Linked DNA regions of Homo sapiens: all the other regions are linked to region 2. Evidence: fine-mapped expression QTL. A gene starts in region 2. Each other region holds a variant in brackets. All regions are shown on one strand. Distances are from middle to middle.

Region 1 (5,220 bases), 120 kb after region 2:
GCCTGGTCTCCAGCGTGCTTTGTTCTCTGTCCTTACCCCTTCCACTTGAGCCTTCCCAACAGACCCAGCTGGCCTCGCCACCAGGGCACAGCATCCCCTGTCTCCACACTGCCTTTACAAAGCCTTCCCCAGTGATCCTGGTTAGGACTCCCGTACTTCTATACGCACTACCCAAGCTTTTATTTAATAATTAGAATCAATCAATTTTAGTAACTAAAAATGGCCACCACTTACTGAGCATTTTCCTTGTGCTCGGTAATCTCATCCATCATCTTACTTAATGGTCAGGGCAGTTCTAAGGGGAGACAGTATTACTGCCATTTTACAGAAGAGGTTAAGGGATTTTCCAAGGTGATAAACCAGTGAGTGGCAGAATGAACATCCGAGCAGGCAAGTCAGGGGCGGGGCTTATTCACTTCTGTGTTCCTTAAAGCACCAGGCAGCTCCCGGCACTTCGAATTTGCTCAATCCATTTTTGTTGAGTGAGTGATCCTTAATCAAAAGTCTCATTGCCTTGATATTCACGTGAGAGCGGCGTGTACCTGCCATGGCAACAAGTTCTATAAAACACCCTACAGTCATCTCTCGGCTCCTCTCATAAACATTGTCACCGTCAGCATTGCAAATCTGTGGCTGCAGGCCAGCTACAAAATGCACTCAGAGGAGTTTTCATTTACTTTCATAAAAATTCCATGATTAAGTGCCTTTTAAAAACAGGCTGGTTAATTCCATCTTACAAGGAATTAAGTAAGTGCAAAAATATTTTCTCCTTTCTACTTGGGAGATGTTATCATTGGGCATGATGACTGCAGGATGACGACTGAAAAGGCCACTGTTCATTCAATCGCTCTTGACCTGCTAAGACAGGCAGCGATAGCCGGTCCTTCACCGTGGCCACAGCAGCTTTTTACAGAGCCCAGACCGCTGCCCTCTGTGCCCTTTGTGCCCTTTGTATTGCGGCCAGGGGGCAGGTCCTGCCTTGGGTTATGCCCCTCTGATCAGAAAGGCCTGTTTCTGGGCAGGTTTTGGGTCATCCAGGCTGGGAGCTGGGCTCAGTGTCAAAGAGACACTTTGGTGTGTCCCATGGGACAACCCTCGGTCCCTTCAAGTAGATGCCCTCTCTGGCTCCCTGGGCTGGTGCTACCTGACCGTTCTTGCCACACGGTGGGAGCCCGGAGAAGCTGGACTTCAGTGCCAAGAACCCTGTCAGGCCCCTAGTCCTTGCTGCTGGAAAACCTGTTCCTTTTCAAGTTTACGAGAGCCCAGAAGTGATATGTACGAAATTGCCCAAGGAAACAATGTGACCTCCCACTGCTGGACAAGTTGGTGGCACCCTGTGTTTATGACCTTGACTCTGATATATGACTGGCCACGCCAAGTGATAACCAAAGATTTCCAAAGGGCATCCTAGCCTCCGAACATAGGTAGCACCTGACATGGCACCTTAAATTGTGGGAGGTAATTATCCATTTTTTTCTACTGGGGTAAAAAAAAATGCATAAAATACCATTTGGCATTGTAACCACGTCTAACTTTACAATTCCAGAGTTAAGTACATTCTTCTTGCTGCACAACCATTACCACCAGCCCCCTCCAGAACTTGTTCAACTCACAAAACTGAAGCTTTGCATCCATTAAACAACTCCCCATTTCCCAGCCCCAGCCCACCCCTGGCACCCACCTTTCTACTTTCTGTCTCTAGGAATCTGACTACTCTAGGTCCCTCCTGTAAGTAGAATTACCCAGAACTTGTCTTTTTGTGACTGGCTTGTTTCACTTCCCATAATGGCCTTAAGGTTCATTCATGCTGTAGCCTGTGTTGGAATTTCCTTCCTTTTAACAATCCTCCATTGCACAGAGAGAGCAGATTTGGTTTATCCATTCACCCATCGATGGACACCTGGCCACTTCCACCTCCCAGCTACTGTGAATAGTGGTTTCGATAATAACCCATTACTGTGAATAACGTGTGCAAATATCTGCCTGAGGGCCTGCTTTCACTTCTTTTGTATATATCCCCAGAAGTGGAACTAGCTGGATCATATGGTAATTGTATTTTTAATTATTTGAGGAACAATGATGGCTTAAAAAATTTTATTGATCAATGTACCATTAGGTGGGACGCTTAAATTAAACAAGCTATTAGCTCTGCACTGCCAGTGGAAGCTTTTGATGGCGACCAGAGCTCCTCGGGATGTTCAGGAGTGACCGTCCCCGAGTGACTTAGGAGGGTCACATAAAATGTGTTTCATGAAGTCACATCTGCTCATTCTAGAAGGCTGTATGCATAATATTCACCCCAAAGTATAAGAGCCAATCAAATTTAGGTAAGTTAATATGCTTTGAATACTTAGTCTAAGTATTTGGATAACATGTATTTAAGTCTGAGCTCTAAATTTGTTGGGGAAAAAATTATAAGGATGCTGAGTTAAAGAACAGATGTATTTCTTATATTTTCATAAAGATGTCTGTACAATGATAAAGATACAGAAATACTCTAGATCAAC[A/G]CTGGGTCATTTATGGTAACATAAAGGAGTTATTCCACCATGTTTTTGTGTTTCTTTATAAAACTGGTTAAATTACTAGTCCCAAAAAGGACAGCTGCTATAAAAAATACATTAAAATAGCATTAAAACAAAGCCCATCTTCTGAACCCATTCAGAAGAAAACATGAAGCGGAGTGGACAAGGTCTTTGACCATTGTATGAAAAAACTAACATTGTCTACTGGAACTTTCAAGAACGCATGCAGAAGGGCAAAGAAGAACTGGAAAATGCTAAAATATATGAGATAGTTTTCCAAGCCACCTCCATCAGCCGGGAAACGGGCAATTGTCAAATAGATGCTGCCTCCGGCTCTATTTCTGTGATGGTCACTCACAAAGACTATGCCTCAACTGTTATTTATAATTAATATAAGGAGCTTAGGGACCAAAAAAGGCAACATGAAACAGCTCAGAATAGCGGGCCTCTGACGAGCAGACTTGCCTTGTCACCTGAGGGCGCATCTCTGTGTCCTAACTTTTTTTTGTTGATGCTGTGTCAGTGCCAAAATCACCTTCCATGGGTCACACAGAGCTAGACTAAAAGGAAGCTATTTTTATATCACAATAACCTAAGATCATAAATTTTATAACTCTGATCATATCGAGATCATCAAAACCGATTATATAATAATAAGCAATAACACCCTGAGAAATCCCAGCGAGAACTCCTTCCTCTTAGTTCTCATGCCTCTACTAAATAATTGATCCTGTGTCACCTCTCACTGGGCGACCTGGAGGACAACGAGCACACTGAGTCTCGGTATCTCCAGGTGCAGCATGCTGCCTTACTTCAGTTAAGTGCCCAATGAATAAGCATCCTCCACAATGGCAGAGAATATGGGGTGGCCCAGAAAAGTAGGTTTAATTCCAGTTTTCCTTACATGGAGAGAGAGCTCTAGGAGTTTCCAGCTCCTTTGGGGCAGGATTAAAATATTAATTTTAGACTTTGTTAGGTTAAAAAATGTGCATGCTGTAATTTCTAGTGCGACCACACAAAAAATTAAGAAACAAATATCTCAAGTCCAGACTTGTAGATGGGGAAAATTGAAACAAACAAAAAAAATTGAGAATCCCAAAGAAGAACAGAAAAAAAGCAAAAAAGAAAAATTGTAACGGGTACAAAAAAGAATACCAAATAGGTAGATAAAATTACAAATATCTCACTAATTACAAGAAACGTAAATGAACTACATATTCCATTTTAAGTGACCACGATTGCAAGATTTAAAAATTTTTTAACAACAAACTATTTACAAGAGGTGTAAACCAGAGAAGAAAAGGATTGACAGAAATATAATTTGACAGGCAAATTCCAACCAAAAGAAAGTTGGTCTAACTATATTAGTATCAATAAAACCAGACTTTATCTTTATTAATGCTTTTAACCTTAAAGAGAGCCCCTTCATAATGATAGAAGGTTGAAATTGTAGGAAATTATACCAACCTTAAATGTTCATGCCTACATAACAGGGCATCAAAATGTAAAAACAACCAGAATTATAAGGAAAATCTTTAACTAGAGCCTCTCTCAGTAACCAACAGAAAACTGACTCAAACCCCCTCCACACTCCTTCCCCCAAATCAGAAGATATGAGAGATTTAAACAACCTCACAAACTTGACCCAGAGGCCATGAAGAATGCTTTAAGGAACAACATCAGAATACACTTTCTCTTTTTTTCTTTTCCAGCATCTACAGGCACGAAAAAACACTGATCCTAGAGTGAAGATGAATGCAGCCCAGAAGAGAGCCACAGTTGACTCAAAGCCAACACCTAAGATGAGTGAGAACTACTTTGTTGCAATGAGCCACAGATATTTGAGGGTAACTATTACATAATCCAACAAAAGCTAATGTTATCAAGTTTATTAATCAACCACCTCTGCCAATGAGAGAAATACTCGAATCACACTTAGGAATTAAAACAAAAAATCACGATGCTTACTGTTCTTTATTTAAACAGATGAAAATATTATTTGAATTAACTGGGAATTTGTTTTGGGGTACTCCTATTTTTCTATGCACAGCCATGGAAGTTTCAATGTTCTGAAAACTGAGATGATGCAAAGAAATCAATTAAAACCTGACTCATCCAATTAACAGCTCACCACTGTTTTTGGAAGATAACAATTACATGCTAAAAATGGGCTTTTAAAAAAGATGAAATATTCTGCATGCGGGAAAAGATGTTTAGAGGAAATTTCACATAGAAATTACTACTGAAATTATTCATGAAACTGCACAAAGAACAATCTTTCCAACTGTCCAATAAATAATATTATCATGCTAAGAAATAAGGTTTTTAAGAAAATAAATCTAACTCTTTAAACATATAAATGTCACATACGTTTGCTATTTTCAGATGCTGACGGATGAGGAGTACTCTAGGTAAAGCGATTCTTGGGCTCTCTCAGGGGGTTAAAGTGTTTCAAGATGTTTCAAGCCTGGTTCACGCTCTTAGGAGGGCACATCTAGACCCAAGCTCTGGCTCTGGCTGTGCTACACACTTGATCCACACCATGGCCATCACATGGAAAGTATGGACAAATATTGGTACCTAACTCTGGAGTTTGTTATCATTAAGTGTGGTAAGGCAACTAAATAGCTTAGCACAGGGACTGCAGTGTAACAAACCACTATGTAAGTGTCAGTCAACACTATCACCATCACCAAAG
Region 2 (5,220 bases):
GGGACAGAGCCCGGCGGGCTGGACCTGGGGCAGGAGGAAGTGTGGTCATGTGAGTGGTATCCTGTCTCCCGGGCCAAGACGCCAGGCAGCGGCCAGACGTGTGTGTTGTGTGTTCAGGGAACCGTCTCCACTCTCCTCGCAGAGAGGAGTGGCCCAGGGACCACACACCCCACCCACGCCAGCAGCAGAGCACCCAGCCCCCTGCTCGCCCTCTGGCTGCCACAGGGCACAGGGGCCCATCCCATGCCCAATGCAGCTGCAGAGGCAAAGCCTCGGGGAGCCAGAGCCACTCTCCAGCATCCAAGGCACCACGGGCAGAGCGCAGGGACGTGTGTGCTGGGAGGGCCTGGCTGCAACCCAAGGGGTCGCCGCAGGATCCAAGAGTGCTCTGGTCCCAACTTAAAGGACTAAGGACCCCCCAACCTTGTCCAGAGAGGACCCAGCCTCCACCCTGCCTGGTGCAGCTGCCCAGAGGCAGAGAGCAGTGATTAAGTAACCAAGGACCCCACACCCCTACAGCCTCTGAGGGCCGAGCCCAAGATCCTTCCCAGCAGAGCACAGTCTGACCCCGCTCCAGGTTCTGCATAACTGGAGAGCACCTCCAGGTTAGCGGAAGCCATGGGCCTCCGCAGGGACACAGTTCCCACCTAGGGAAGGGGAAGTGGCAGGGCCAGTGCCCCCATACCGACAGCAACTGCGCCACCACCTCGGCGCCCCCCAGCCCTGGGATATCTGGCCCATCCCTCGCTGCCGCTGGTCTCTCACCTCTCCAAGTTCAGGGGTTTGGGCAGAGAAGAGCTAAGAGCTTCAGAGACACCTCACCAGACACCCCCACGTCCCAGGTGGGGAAACAAGCCCCGCTGTTCCTGGCAGGACCAGGACCGGAACCCGGCTCCTCCGGCAGGCTGGACACCGGGATGGCAGGGCATGGACAATGACACGCAGGCAGACCCTCTGCTCCTCCATGTTCTGAGTCCCCTCCATGTGCCTTCACACTCACACAGCTCTGCCAGCCCCCCAACCCGGTGCAGCTCCGGGAGAGAACTATGTCCCGAAGGCAGCCAGCGCCCCACCCTGCCCTCCCTCCACCTTCACTCCAAAGGCTAATGTTTCTGCTGGGTGGTGACCAACTGTGTCAAACTGACGTCCCAGTTAGGGTTTGTCACGGGGTCCCTGTGCAGGCAAGCAGCCACAACCTGCCCCCGAGGTCCCAGCCTCTTGTCCCCACCTCTAGGTTGCCCTTCCTTCCCAGGAAGTTGCCTGCTAAGGCTCTGAAATCACTCACTTCCCCGTGACTCCACTCTAGGCCTTACACACACACTTTTGAAATCAAGTCTAAGTCCAAACCAGGGTTTCTTAATTCCATCTCAGTGGCTTCAACTTCCTCCTCCGAGACACAGCTGAAAACCCTGTCCCGGCCAACTCTGCCCCTACTTTCTAAGCAATCTGAACACCCCCAGCTGCCAAGGGTTTATATTTAATTAATCCTTATTTAAATGTGAATCCTCAAAACCTCCACAAAACAAGCCTCTAGCTGCACCTCGGGGCCCTATAAAAACCAAAAAGCGTGTGCAGGTCCAATGCGAGGATATGAAAAAAATAACTCCTGCCTCAAAGAAACACGGGGTTTCCATCCTGGTCCAGCTCGTGGAAGAGCGTTTCAAGCCAACTTTGGATAAAGCAGCTCTTACGGCCGTCGCTTCTCCCACTGAGGTCTGTCCTGCTGGTGCACTTACTTCCAAATGCCCCTTCCGGGAAAATGAAACCTTCCACCACCTTCGACGATCAACTGCAGAGTAAACTTGCGGAAAGTGAAGGAAAAAGCAGACACCTGATTCCTTGCAAGTCCCAGAACAAAGACGAAAGGACCACGAGTCCCGTTGTTACCATTTCTACATCCCAATCACTTGGGGTGCAATGCCCCAAGATCTAGGAAAAGGAATCCACCCTTTTGCCCCCACAAAATGTGTTCAGAGCCAAGGGTGAGCGGACCCGCACTCTCCCACACCGCATTCGGGCAGCCTGTCTGTCCCTCCCATAAAGGGCTCTGGTCAAGATCCAAGTCAAGCCGGACCCACTCCCACAAGCAGAGCTGTGAGGTCCTGGGGGTTAGGGCGGGGGTCCTCAGAGCTTCCAGGGCCAGTCCCCAGGCTGCAGACCCACTCACCTGCAGACAGGACAGCCTCCTACGACCACGATAGAGTTGGCAGGATAGCGGGTGACGGTCCGGCTGTGGATGTTGTAGACCCTGGGATGGTGGGTGGGTATCCCTGTGGGCGGGAAAGCAGGTCATTAGGGTGCAGGGAGGAGAAATCGGACCGCCACGGGGACTACTCATCCTGTCCCCTCAACCTCCACCCCGCTAAAAAAGCCCCCGGTCTTTTCCACCCTCGGGACGGCCACCGCGGGCCTGATTCGGCGCTAATCTGCCAACAGCGAGCGCCTCGTGACACAAAGTTCATCTGGGGCAGGGATCCGGCCCCGCCGGGTTACGACGGGCCCGAGGACTAGAGCCCCGGGGGGGAGGCTGGCCCTCGGCGGCGCCGGGTCCCGAAGCCAGCCCGGGGACCTCCAGCTCCAGGAAGGACCCCCGGGCGGGCCCCACCCGCCTCCGGACCCACGTCCCCCGACCGGGCTTGCCACCTCGGAAGCCGCCGGCGGGGAAAGTTGGTTACGGGCCCACCTGTGACGAGGTAGGGGTAGGGCGGCGGCGGGGGCGCGGCGGGGATGGCGCCGTAGCCGTGCGGGCCGCACGCGTAGTCGCCCTGGCCGGCCTCCAGGTTGTAGGCGGGCGGCCGCTCCTGCAGCAGCGGCTTGTGGTCCATGGCGGCCCGGCCGCGCCCGCCGCTCCGGCCCGGCTCGGCTCGGTCGGCCCCGGCGGGGGACGCGGCGGCGGCGGCGGGGACGCGGCGGACCGGGTGGCTCGGGCCCCTCTGAGGCAGACGCGGGGCGGGGCGGGGCGGGCGCGAGCCGCGGGCTTCCCCCGCCCTCCCGGGCCCAGTCACAAGACCGGGGTCACGTGGGCGGCGGGAGGCGGGGCTCGGGGGCGGGGCCGGCGGGGCGTCTTAAAGGGGCCGCGCCCTCCCGAAGCCGCCCCGCCGGCGGCGCCTCTGCACTCCGCCCCGCCCCGCCGCCGCTGCTCTCTAGACCTCCCGTGGCGGGGAGACCCCCCCCCCCGCCCATCCCCCACGACGACCCAGAGACGCCCCATAGGGTCATGACCTTTAGGGCTCGCGGATGCACCCCCACCTCCCCCTACGCCCCGATCTCCCAGGCCGGCCGAGGTCCCCCTACCGGTGGAGGAGGGGGAGGGCGGGGCCTGAGAGGGGGCGGGGCCGGGTGGGTCCCAGGCCGCCCCAACGCCAGCCCTCTGCCCCTATGATCGCCAGCGCTTCCAGCAATACAAAGGGCACACCCGGGTGTGCACCTCAGCTGCGGCCTGCGCGGTGCTCAGCTGCGGCGCATTCCCTCCGTTTGCCTTTTTTTGGACAATTAGGTGATTGACGGGGGTAGTAGCCAGTGCTTACAAATAACTCCCCCGTTTGGGGACAAAACTATAAATACTGGGCACCTGCCGCGTCTCCTCAGTTTCCCTAATCTTCAGGCAGCCCTGCCAGGTGTTTTGCTTACCCCTGGAGGACAACACGGGATCGGGCTCAGAAGGGGGAGGGATTTGGCTGTGGCAGGTGCGGGTCAGAGCCCGTATCTAAACCTGGGTGTTTTCTGGCCTCGGGGACTGCGTCAGGCGCCCTCGTTGAAACATTTCCTCATACAAGGCTTCACGGGTTGGCCAGGACAACTTTAAAACGAACGATTGGAACGTTCAGGATTGCTTGCGTCCTTAGCGCCTCTGCACCTTTTCAGGGGCACCTGTATCCGTTACTGTATTCTGTCTCCAGTTTTCTCACCTGCATTTTGATATCACCTGCACTGTAGCTCTGGGACGACTACAGCTCTTCTCGAACCGCGCCTTTTTAATTTTTAAAAAAAAAATTTGTAGGGGGTGCTGGGGGGGCTCTCTTGCTCTGTCACCCAGGCTGCAGTAGAGTGACACAGTCATTGCTCAATGCAGTCTCGACCTCCTGGGCCCAAGCCATCCTCCCACCTCAGCCTCCTCAGTAGCTGGGGACCACAGGCACACGCCACCATGCCCAGCTAATTTTTAAAAATTTTTGTATGGGATCTTGCTATGTGCCCAGGCCAGTCTCAAACTGCTGGCCTCAACCAATCCTTTTGCATCAGCCTCCCAAAGTGCTGGAATTACAGATGTCAGCCCCTGCACCCGGCCTTATTTTTATTTTTTAATAAGGGATCATCATTCACATGTATATATACACACACATACATATATATATATATATATATATATATATCTTTTTTTTTTTTTTTTTTAACAGAGTCTCACTCTGTGGCCCAGGCTGGAGTGCAGTGATGCAACCCTGGCTCACTGCAACGTCGACCTCCGGGGCTCAAGTGATCCTCCCATCTCAGCTTCCTAAGTAGCTGGGGACTACAGGTGCACGCCACAGTGCCCAGCTAATTTTTTTTTATATTTTGTAGAGATGGGGTGTTGCTATGTTTCCCAGGCTGGTCTCAAACTCCTGGGCTCAAGTGATCCTCCTCACTCAGCCTCACAAGGTGCTGGGATTATAGGCATGAGCCACCAAGCCCACCTGACCATCATATTTCTTTATCACAAGACCAGCTCTTCGAAGCCCATTCCCATCGATCTTGTACCTGCTGTCCTAGTCATCGTACCCACAGTCCTCGAAAAAGGAACTGAGGGGTGGTCCAGGTACACTAGGGAACTGAGGGGTGGCCCCTGGCACTGATGAACAGCCAGATCAAGAGTGAAGACTGGGCCGGGCGTGGTGGCTCATGCCTGTAATCCCAGCACTTTGGGAGGGTGAGGTGGGTGGATCACTTGAGGTCAGGAGTTCGAGACCAGCTGGCCAACATGGTGAAACCCCGTCTCTACTAAAAATACAAAAATTGGCTGGCCATGGTGGGGGGTACCTGTAATCCCAGCTACTCTGGAGGCTGAGGCACGAGGATCACATGAACCTGGGAGGCGGAGGTTACAGTGAGCCAAGATCGTGCCATTGCACTCCAGCCTGGATGACAGAGTGAGATTCCATCTCAAAAAAAAAAAAAAAAAAAAGAGTGGAGACTGGCCAGGAGTGGCCAAGGGCTTTGGAGCCAGTAGAGGCTCTGGTAGGC
Region 3 (5,220 bases), 36 kb after region 2:
CAGTCACCCGGCCGTCTGGAGCACCCGCATGGCTCTGGTATGCTGCGGGAGCACTGGGCCCAGCCTCCAGGCACCTAAATAAACTCTGCCTGTCTCCTTTTGCTCCGGTTTTTAAGTCAGACTGGCCATGTCTTCATCTGTAGGCTCTTTCCTCTCTTCAGGCCCCGGGCCAGTGTCCTGGGTTGGATCTAGGAGCCGCCCTGTCGGGCAGAGCTTCTCAGGTGATGGCCCTGGTGGCTTCATCCAGTAGCTCTGTGTTTGGCTGCCTTGTGTGTGGCCATGTGGCCCTGCCACGGTGGAAAGACTGTTCCTATCAGGAGCCAGGACTCCAGGAAGGACACCCCTGGGTGCAACAGCACTATGGGCCCTGGAGGTGGGGCCAGGGGTGGTCAGTGGCAGAGCTTAGCAATAGCCTTGGCTATGCCTACAAAGCACAGAGAAAGAAGAGAGAAAGGGCTGGGTGCAGTGGCTCACGTCTATAATCCCAGCGCTTCGGGAGGCCAAGGTGGGAGGATCGCTTGAGGCCAGGAGTTCAAGACCAGCCTGGGCAACATAGCGAGACCCCATCTCTACAAAAAAAATTTTAAAAATTAGCCAGGTACGGTGGCACATGCCTGTAGTCCCAGCCACTCAGGAGGCTGAGGCAGGAGGATGGCTTGAGTTCAGGAGTTCAAGGCTGCAGTGAGCTATGATTGCACCACTGTACTCCAGTCTGGACAACAGAGCAAGATACTCTCTTAAAAAATAAAAAAGAAAAGAAAAGAAAAAGAAAGGAGTAGAGAATGGCAGAAGAAGAGAGCCGGGGGAAGAGGAGGAAGGAGTCACTGAGGGCGCATGAAGAAAAGACCCCTACGTCCCTGAATTCACATGGTCACGTTGGCTCTCAACGTGCCCTCATTATGCCCAGATAGAGGCCAACATGGCGGGGAGACCTGCCCACTCTGGGGAAGGACCCCTGGGGAAGTAGTGGGGTAGTTATATCTTTCGAGATTCAACTAAACCTGTAAGCTTTCATTGATTCTTTTGAAAACAAAGATCTGGCCAGGCATGGTGGCTCAAGGCTGTAATCCTAGCAGTTTGGGAGGCCGAGATGGGAGGATTGCTTGAGACTAGGAGTTTGAGACCAGCTTGGGCAACATAGTGAGACTCTGTCTCTACAAAAAAAAAATTTTTAATTAGCTGGGTATGGTGGTGCATGTCTGTTGTTGTCCCAGGAGGCTGAGGTAGGAGGATCACTTGAGCCCAGGAGTTCGAGGCCGCAACGAGTTGTAATCAAACCACTGCACTCCAGCCTGGGTGACCGAGCAAGACCCTGTCTCTACTTTTTAAATTCTTTTTTTTTGAGACAGGGTCTCCCTCTGTCACCTAGGCTGCAGTGCAGTGGCACTGTGTCTGCTCACTGCAACCTCCATCTCCCGGGTTCAAGCCATTATCCTGCCTCAGCCACCTGAGTAGCTGCGACTACAGGCACACACTACTGTGCCTGGCTAATTTTTGTATTTTTAGTAGAGATGAGGTTTCACCATGTTGACCAGGCTGGTCTTGAACTCCTGGCCTCAAGTGATCTATTTTTAAATTCTTTCAAAAACAAAAAAGAGACCGGGCGTGGTGGCTCATGCCTCTAATCCCAACACTTCGGGAGGCAGAGGCAGGTGGATCACCTGAGGTCAGGAGTTCGAGACCAGCCTGTCCAACATGGTGAAATCATGTCTCTACTAAAAATACAAAAATTAGCCAGGCGTGGTGGCGTGCACCTGTAGTCCCAACTACTGGGGAGGCTGAGGCAGGAGAAAACCTGGGAGGTGGAGGTTGCAGTGAGCCAAGATCCCAAGATCGTGCCATTGCACTCCAGCCTGGGCAACAGAGCGAGACTCCGTCTCAAAAAAATAAACAAAAAAAGAAAGAATAAGCAGTTGGCCACGCGCGGTGGCTCACGCCTGTAATCCCAGCACTTTGGGAGGCTGAGGCAGGCAGATCACAAGGTCAGGAGATCGATACCAGCCTGGCCAATGTGGCGAAACCCCGTCTCTACTAAAAATACAAAAACTAGCTGGGTATGGTGGCAGGTGCCTATAATCCCAGCTACTTGGGAGGCTGAGGCAGGAGAATTGCTTGAACCCTGGAGGTGGAGGTTGCAGTGAGCCAAGATTGCGCCACTGCACTCCAGCCTGGGTGACAGAGTGAGACTCCATCTAAAAAAAAAAAAAAAGAGAAAAAGAATAAATAGTCACAGTAGAAGTCTCCCAGGTTTCACATGACTCTGATGTCCCCTGGGCTGGGAGCCTGAACGCTGGCCCTCGTCCTCCTGCCGCAGGTTACCTCCAGCCGCTGCCATGCCCAACTCAGTGCTGTGGGCGGTGGACCTCTTCGGGAGAGTGTACACGCTGTCCACAGCAGGCCAGTACTGGGAAATGTGCAAGGACTCCCAGCTGGAGTTCAAGCGCGTCAGCGCCACCACGCAGTGCTGCTGGGGCATTGCCTGTGACAACCAGGTCTACGTGTATGTGTGTGCCAGCGATGTCCCCATCCGCCGCCGAGAGGAGGCCTATGAGAATCAGGTAGTGACCCTCATGGTTGGAGTTGCCGAGCGGGTCAGTTCGCTGGGTTATTGGTTAAAATGATGAACCACAGAAGGGAAATAGAGGCCCCAGATTCCCCACCAGTTCCTGCCTTCATTTCCTTCCTTGTACTTAAAATCTGTGTTGCTGCCAGGCGTGGTGACTCACGCCTGTAATCCCAGCACTTTGGAAGGCTGTGGCGGGCAGATCGCTTGAGCTCAGGAGTTTGAGACCAGCCTAGGCATCATGGTGAATCTCTGCCTCTACAAAAAAAATACAAGAATTAGCAGGGTGTGGTGGTGTGCACCTTTAGTCCCAGCTACTTAGGAGGCTGAGGCAGGAGGATCACTTGAGCCAGGGAGGTCAAGGCTGTAGTGAGCCATAATCGTGCCCTGCACTCCAGCCTGGGCAACAGAGCAAGACCCTGTCCCCCTGCACCCCGCCCCTCCAAAAAAAATTCAAGTTGCATAGTATCCAGGGTCTTTGAGGCTGAAGCCACTATTGTGTCCTCACCAAAGCAGTCTGGCCAGGTCCCCACGAGGGCAGGCTCCAGTGGTTTCTGGGAGCCTAGGACAAG[G/C]TGTGCCCTCCACCGCCTGCCCTGCTCACAGCGCCGTGGCTGGCAGGAGGTTCTTTGCCCTTTGGGGCTGTGCTGATGTACTTGCTGGCTCATGATGAAGTGGCATGGGGGTCCCCAGTTGCTGGGTCCCACACAGGCCCTCTGCTCACTTCCTATTCTGGAGATCAATGAGGGGGTCGGCTGGGCAGGGTCAGCTGGTCCTGGAGATGCCTGGCCCGCCTGGGTTCCCGCCCAGCAGGCTTGGGTCCAAGGCCGCCTCTGTGTCCCCGGCCCTCAGCGCTGGAATCCCATGGGCGGCTTCTGTGAGAAGCTCCTGCTGAGTGACCGCTGGGGGTGGAGTGACGTGAGTGGGCTCCAGCACCGGCCGCTGGACAGGGTGGCACTGCCCTCGCCGCACTGGGAGTGGGAGTCTGACTGGTACGTGGATGAGAATTTTGGAGGTGAACCCACTGAGAAAGGGGTAGGTGAACTTGGGACCCTCCATGACTGCCCTGTGGGGAGGGGGTGCCTCCCGCCTGTCCCTGCTTCTGTCCCCTGCACCCTGTGGTGCCTGAGCTCGGGTGTTTCAGGCCACACCCTCCCTCCCCACCTTCCCCAGCTCTTCAAATGCCTTCCCCGCAGAGCCTGAGAGCCCCTTCCTTGGTGTTTCAGGGGTGGACGTACGCCATCGACTTTCCCGCCACCTACACGAAAGACAAGAAGTGGAATTCTTGTGTGCGGCGCCGGAAGTGGATCCGGTACAGGAGATACAAGTCCCGGGACATCTGGGCCAAGGTCTCTGTTCCTGAATGTGGGTTGGGGGCAGGATAGGGCCAGGACAGAGTGTCACATGCAGCCTCCTCTCCACCTTCCCCACCTGTGTGCACCAGGGGACACCACGCCCACCTCGGGACCTGGCCTTTGAGCTGTTTCCTGTCCCGGGAACACCACGACACTGCGTGTCCCTTCACTTGGGAGATAGTCACACAGGGAGCCAGGCCAGGCCCAGGACAGCACAGAACTTGCCCTGACCCTGGTGTCCAAGCTGCTCTGTCCCAGACTGAGCCTCCATCTGGCACTTTGTCCTCCCCCTCAGCCAAGGGAGGCACCTCTGGCTCTAGCGTTGCTCCATGACCCAGAAGAACCTCCCAGCTTAGGGAGCACAGCACTGGACCCAGGTCTTGGCGTGGCCTCCAATGAGTGGAGGCCTCCCTGGGACATACAGGGCTGTCAGGTGGGGCTGCCCCTGGGACTGGGAGAAGCCAGGAGACCAGGGAGCTGGCCCTATTTTTTTTTCTTTTTAGAGATAGGGTCTCGCTCTGTTGCACTCTGTTGAGTGCAGTGGTACAGTCACAGCTCACTGCAGCCTGGAACTCCTGAGCTCAAGCAATCCTCCCACCTCAGCCTCCCTAGTAGCTGGGACTACAGGCATGCACCACCATGCCCGGTTAACTTTTAAATTTTTTGTAGAGGCTGGGTGTGATGGCTCATGCCTGTAATCCTAGCACTTGAGAAGCCAAGGCAGGTGGATCACTTGAGGCCGGGAGTTTGAGAACAGCCTGGCCAACATGGTGAAACCACGTCTCTACTGAAAATACAAAAATTAGCCGGGCAGGGGCCCCCACAGTCCTGATGCTGCCTTCCCTGTGAATTAAGGCAGCTGCAGGCTGGGCTGAAGAATGGAAGTCCGGATGGCAGGCGGGCGGGAGGTGGGTGCATGCCCAGGTGCCCACTGGGCGCTGACTGCTACCATTTCTCACTTCCTTCCTTCAGATCCCCTCGAAGGATGACCCCAAGGAGCTGCCCGACCCCTTCAACGACCTCTCTGTAGGGGGCTGGGAGATCACGGAGGAGCCTGTGGGCCGCCTGTCAGTGTGGGCTGTGTCTCTGCAGGGCAAGGTAAGGCCAACCCCTCTCCCTGCCCTGGCTCCCCACGATCCCACCTCCTGTGGGTCCTGTCCTGTGCACCCCCTGGGTCTTGCTCCTCCCCGGAGCCCCGGCCCCCCCACCCCATGCCTGCTCCTGGCCTTTCTCTCCTCCGAGCCCCCAGCGTGCTGATCAGTGCCCAGCCTCAGCTCAGGCACATCAATGCGGCCTCCTCAAGAC

The links. PIP is the estimated chance that this variant, and not a neighbour inherited with it, causes the effect. A credible set is the group of variants that fine-mapping cannot tell apart.
Region 1: its variant is the best candidate, but not a certain one, in a credible set for the expression of BRI3 in whole blood (INTERVAL, PIP 0.59).
Region 3: its variant is the best candidate, but not a certain one, in a credible set for the expression of BRI3 in whole blood (TOPMed, PIP 0.80).

What each region holds. Positions count from the first base shown.
Region 1 is chr7:98,159,567-98,164,786 of GRCh38, reverse strand. The region is part of intron 6 of LMTK2 (lemur tyrosine kinase 2); the gene reads right to left. Among named protein-coding and RNA genes, the nearest start is that of BHLHA15, 49 kb to the left of the region's middle. RefSeq lists enhancers at 522-1,030, 1,031-1,540. The variant A/G (reference allele first, on the strand shown) is at 2,508.
Region 2 is chr7:98,279,401-98,284,620 of GRCh38, reverse strand. BRI3 (brain protein I3) reads right to left here and starts at 2,935. Exons shown (of 3, transcript NM_015379.5): 1 at 2,684-2,935; 2 at 2,168-2,270. The coding sequence starts at 2,825. RefSeq lists silencers at 2,444-2,783, 2,914-3,423 and an enhancer at 3,120-4,104.
Region 3 is chr7:98,243,260-98,248,479 of GRCh38, reverse strand. It overlaps TECPR1 (tectonin beta-propeller repeat containing 1), which reads left to right. Exons shown (of 26, transcript NM_015395.3): 3 at 2,315-2,558; 4 at 3,413-3,595; 5 at 3,787-3,909; 6 at 4,888-5,013. The coding sequence starts at 2,334. Among named protein-coding and RNA genes, the nearest start is that of TECPR1, 6.4 kb to the left of the region's middle. The variant G/C (reference allele first, on the strand shown) is at 3,136.